Linked DNA regions of Homo sapiens: region 1 is linked to region 2. The links come from fine-mapping of genetic effects on gene expression. A gene starts in region 2. The other region holds a variant in brackets. All regions are shown on one strand. Distances are from middle to middle.

The links. PIP is the estimated chance that this variant, and not a neighbour inherited with it, causes the effect.
Region 1: its variant is the best candidate, but not a certain one, in a credible set for the expression of LATS2 in whole blood (TOPMed, PIP 0.56).

What each region holds. Positions count from the first base shown.
Region 1 is chr13:20,938,127-20,941,141 of GRCh38, forward strand. It overlaps LINC00367 (long intergenic non-protein coding RNA 367), which reads right to left. Exons shown (of 6, transcript NR_104058.1): 5 at 1,737-1,809; 6 at 438-524. Among named protein-coding and RNA genes, the nearest start is that of LINC00367, 9.8 kb to the right of the region's middle. RefSeq lists an enhancer at 1,474-1,973. The variant G/A (reference allele first, on the strand shown) is at 1,356.
Region 2 is chr13:21,060,298-21,062,797 of GRCh38, forward strand. It overlaps LATS2 (large tumor suppressor kinase 2), which reads right to left and starts at 1,289. Exons shown (of 8, transcript NM_014572.3): 1 at 1,049-1,289. RefSeq lists an enhancer at 1-648 and silencers at 154-563, 704-1,503.

The sequences.
Region 1 (3,015 bases), 120 kb before region 2:
ACATCTGGCTAATTTTTAAATTTTTTTGTAAAGACAGGGGTCTCACTTTGTTGCCCGGGCTGGTCTCAAACTTCTGGGCTCAAGTGATCATCCACACACCTCGGCCTCCCAAAGTGCTGGGATTACAGGTGTGAGCCACTGTGCCTCACCTCAATTTTGTAGGATTTTTGTAGGATTTTGATTCCAATCTTTTCTCTGCCACTTATCATTTGTGTGCCCTGAGTGAGTTCCCGTCATCTCGGTATGTCTGTTTTTCATCTGTGCAATAGGGGTCACAGTACCTACCTCATGCTGGGTTTGAGATCTCCGTGTGCCACATATTAGCTTGGGACCTTGGGCTGATTAGTTGTCCTCTCTGAGCCTCAGCTCCCAAGCCAGGAGGTGGAGCTAATGTGGCTGCCTCCAGGCATTAGCACGAAGATGGGCAGGGATGGCTCTGAGCACCCAGCACAGAGCAAGACCCCTTCACCCGGTAGACACCTGGCAGACGGGAATTACCACTGCTTATGATACAATGGTATTTCCTAAATTTGAAGATAATGTTGAAAGTAAGCTGCATCATGGATTTAATAATAGTGCTTTGAGTGAGAGAGAGAGAGAAAAAAGAAACCAATGTGGCATTCAGTGCATAAGAATAAAATGAGGTGTTGAATAAAAAGACTTGGGCCGGGCGTGGTGGCTCATGCCTGTAAATCCCAACACTTTGGGAGGCCGAGGTGGGTGGATTACCTGAGGTCAGGGGTTTGAGACCAGCCTGGCCAACATGGTGAAACCCCGTCTCTACTAAAAATATAAAAATTAGCCAAGCATGGTGGCGTGCGCCTGTAGTCCCAGCTACTCAGGAGGCTGAGACAAGAGAATCGTGTGAACCCACAAGGCGGAGGCTGCAGTGAGTCGAGATTGCCCCACTGCACTCACTCCACCCTGGGTGACAGAGTGAGACTCAAAGAAAAAAAAGTCGAATTTTTATACACATCCGTTAGGGACTTTTCACATCATGTGCATTTCCATAAATCTACACATTGTATTTTTGCACAGACTTGTGTTTCTAGGTGTGTCTGGGGCTCCAGGATTCTCTTACAGGAGACGACTGTTCAACTTGTTTTTAAATGAAAACACTAATGTTTCGTTTTATTTTTTTCCCTGCATGAAAAGTAACAATCCACCATAAAGCAAGGGGCATGCCCCCCGACCAAGCCATCCTTGCTCAGGGGTAGAGAGTAACCCTTTGCGGGGAGTGGGTGATAGTGCTAAGATTTGGGTTCTGGTTTTAAGGAGTTATCTAAAGTTTAGTTCTGAAAGAAGACGCAAAGGGGATTTCTCATGGAGGAATGCAAGCCTATGGGACAGAAGGC[G/A]ATGAGTCAGGAATCGTTGGATTGGGTCACCAAAAGCCTGGGTCCTGATCCAGGATGCTTGTCCCAAAAGGGGCCCCACATACTTGATTAAGAAGGAAAGAGTGAGACCACTGTGAGGGGCAACAGTCAAGGATGGGGGGCAGAAGGGGTCTTTGAATCTGAAGCCCACCAGGGGCTGACTGTCCAGCTTTGATGTGAGCAAGAGCCCCTTTGAGGAGCTGCCCAGGCTAGTTCCTTCCACAGTGGCTCAAAGACAGGAGTGCCTGATCTGCTGCCGACTGGCTGGGAGACTGAGATTTGTTGCAGGCCAACTAGTGCATGTGACCCAGTGTCAGATATATCCCCAAAATATCCCTGGCAAGTGGCGGGATGATCTCCTACCCCTTCGCTTGAGCAGGCCGGAGGCCAGGAGCTGAGACTCCTCATTCTCCATTTCTGTTTACCTTCTCCCCAGCTGGGAACAAAGGACAAGAATTTGGGAGTGACAGGCATGTGGCCACACACTCAAATGCACTTGTTTATACCTGTTTGTTTACTGTTTCAGCAGATTCTTGCTTAGCAATAACTGAGTTTATCTCCTTGTCTTAAGGAAACTCTTAAGAATGTTATTATAATGTAGTAAAATTTAAATGTCTCTTGAATGATGAAGCACTAACTAATGTGCTATATCTAAATGTAGAAATGCACATTTACGAGTATTGTCCTCTCCCGGCATTTTCATCTGAACACTCAGTCTGTTGACAACACTCAAAAACTTCATAAAAGATCACAATCTAGCACTTAAGTTCTACAGATAATGTTGAAATCTTGCACAAGATTTAGGAATCTCAGGCAATGACATGCATAACATTGCTATTAGGAAATGTGTAATATACTCTTCTGTTACTATCAGTGGAAAGTCAAAAAACAAACAAACCATAGTGATAAGAGCTGTGTGAATTAAGGAATTTTAGAGCTGAAAGTGACCTTCGAAATCCTAGAGCCTCACCCATTTTTACCTTCTAATAATCGTGCTGTAAAATATCACACTTACACTGTAGAAAATTTGGAAATATACAGAAGATGTTTAAAATTAGGAAGAAAAGGCTGGGCACCGTGGCTCATGCCTGTAATCCCCGCACTTTCGGAGGCTGAGGTGGGCAGATCACAAGGTCAAGAGATCGAGACCAGCCTGGCCAACATGGTGAAACCCAGTCTCTACTAAAAATACAAAAAATTAGCTGGGCGTGGTGGCGCGCGCCACTGCAATCTGACCTAGCGACAGACTGAGACTCAGTCTCAAAAAAAAAAAAAAATCAGGAAGAAAAAAATCACCCACAATTGTATCACCTACAAGAGGTCACCATTTTTTAAAACTTTGCCGTATTTCCTTTCAGACATGTAAAATTTTTGATATATTTATTTTTTTCTTTTTCTTGCTACAAAAAACTGAGATCGTACAGTTTGTATCCTTCACCCTTTACTTAACATTATATAGTGATAATTTTGCTTTTTATTAAAAACTTTTTGAATATGGAATTTTTATTGATTACATAAAATGTGACAGTATGGCATAGAGTCATAAAATATTTGTAACCGTCATCATAGTATTGAATGTGTAATTGCGTTTAAAGATACTATAGTATAGATGTGCTAAGGGAAATACTTTTGTGCATAACTG
Region 2 (2,500 bases):
GTCAGAATCCCCATCTCCAGAGTCCGGCTGGGGAGCTAAGCGCAGGTGAGCTTACATCAGAAGAGAAAGCCAAACCCCCCACACGTCGCTAAACTAGGGCACGGGAATGGCGTGTTATGCAACGGCCGCCGTTCGCGTGGCCACGAAAGCGCTCCTGCGCCTCGGGCCGCGTCCCGCCAAGACCGTGAGCAAACTCGCAGAGTTGGCGCGGCAGCCGGCCGGGAGACGCCGAGCAGGGCCTGGCCGCCCGCAGCCCGGGAGGAACGGCGCCCCCAGGGTCCGGTGGCCTCTGAGGGGCTGACTGGCCCGTGAGCCGGCGGCGCGGCCGCGGGGAACGGGGTGGGAACCGCGCGGCAGTGGGTGAGGCGGCGCAGCCACCGGGGGCTGAGGGGCGGCGCGGCCTCGACTGCGGCACCGCCGTGGGTCCGTCGGCTCGCGGGACGACGGGGCGGCCGGCGGGGGCCAACAGGGCGGGCTCTGAAGGACTGATTGGCCCGTGGGACGATGGCGCGGCCGGGAGGATGGCCCCGGATCCGTGGGACCGCTGCGCCGCCGGACCGGGGGTCCCGAGGCTGTCAGGGGCGCCCGGCCGGGCGTCTAGTGAAAAGCCGATCCCCCGGAGACAGCGGAAGCAGAGGCGCGCCCGGCGCTACGGCCTTTCGGGTCTAGGACACCGCCCCCGGCCCGCGCCGCCCCTGCCCCGCCGGGATCCCGGCCGCCCCGGTCGCCGCACAACAAAGCGGCGCAGCCCCGCTGCCCCCGCCCGACGCCGGCCTCCAACTTCCCCGGCTCCTCTGGAACCGGCTCCGCGGGCTCCGTACGGCCTGGACTACGAGCCGCCGGGCGGGGGCGGCTCCGGGCGGGCGCGGACCGTGGGGGCAGGGCGCAGGGCTCCGTCCGGACAAACTTCCTCGGCCGCCCCGCCGGGCGCCCTTCCCGGAGCCTCGGCACCACAGTAGGTGCGCGGAGCCGCAGGGCTCGACCGCTTCGCGGAAACTCTCGCCACCCTCCGAGCTGCCGCCCCGACCCCAGCTCCCAGCCCCCTCACCTCCAGGGGCGCGGTCTACACCCTCGGGGGCGTCCTGGCCGGCGGCTCCCGGGCCTCTCGCGCCGGGAGACCGGGCACTGGTGGCTGGAGCTGCTGCTGGCCCCGCAGGGACGGGGGAGCCCCGGGCGGCGGCGGTGGCGTGGACGGCGACTGCTCCATCTTCCCGGGGCGCTCACGCCGCGGTTCCAAAGCGCAGACCCAAGTGGGACATTCGCTACATTGTTGGCATTCCACGGGCGTCACGTGACCCCGCCTCCCGCGTCACTCTCGGCCGCATACCAGTCCGGGCGGGGCGCCTGCGGCCCCTGCTCCTCCGCGGCCGCTCCGCCCAGCCCCGCCCGGCCGTGCTTCCTGCCTCCGGCCTCGACCGCCACCTGCCCACGGCCTCCCTGCTGGCCTGCGGTAGCTCGCCAGGGCCTCTCGGACCTATTTGACTGGCTGCTATCTGCCCCCAAACTTGAGTATTTGCCCTCTCGACTGCATTTGTATTAAAAGTTGGTAACTGTCGTTAAAGCCACTATTCTTAAGTATCTCATACCAGTCTTGGTGAAAGAAAAAAAAAAGTTAGCAGGCCTGAAGGAGCCACCAAGTTACCAACTAGTGGCTGGACACTAAAAATAGGGGCAGAAAAGGACAGACGGCTATTGGGACAGTGGAATCAAACAATTAAGAAGGACGTTTGCCAGAAGCGGTGGCTCACGCCTGTAATCCCAGCACTTTGAGAGGTCTAGGCGGGTGGATCACCTGAGGTCGGGAGTTCGAGACCAGCCTGACCAACTTGGAGAAACCCCCGTCTCTATTAAAAATACAAAATTAGCCAGGCGTGGTGGCTCATGCCTGTAATCCCAGCTCTTCGGGAGGCTGAGGCAAGAGAATCACTGGAACCCGGGAGGCGGAGGTTGCGGTGACCTGAGATCGCATCATTGCACTCCAGCCTAGGCAAGAAGAGCAAAACTCCGTCTCAAAAAAAAAAAAAAAAGAACGTCTGATGCACACCCAAATTTAACCTGATTTAATTTAATCAACCTCCCCTCCCCATGTATATTTTCTTTCTGAGAAGTATTTTATGGTGTAGGGAATAGTATAGTACCGTATATACCAGCAAGTGAGGTCGTGGGTTTTGAACAGCTTCACTATCCATTTGAGGACTGTGGATCTGGTACAGGGACAGAAGCAGGGATGGTGCAAAGATTCACAGTAGAAATAATAGACTGGAAGCCAAATCCTCAGTCTACTTCTGGCTCTCCTAACATCATACTTCCTACCACCTATATCTGTGGCAAGTGATGCTGAGGGTCAATATAGTGTTTAAAGTCAACTCGATTTCCTCTTTAATTGACAAACTCTTGTGAAATTTTTAAATTTTACTCTCATGGGAAACAGTAGTAAAGGTCATTATCTGTGCACTATTTTGACAGTCTCACCCAGCCTTCAGTCCCTGGTTCATCCTCC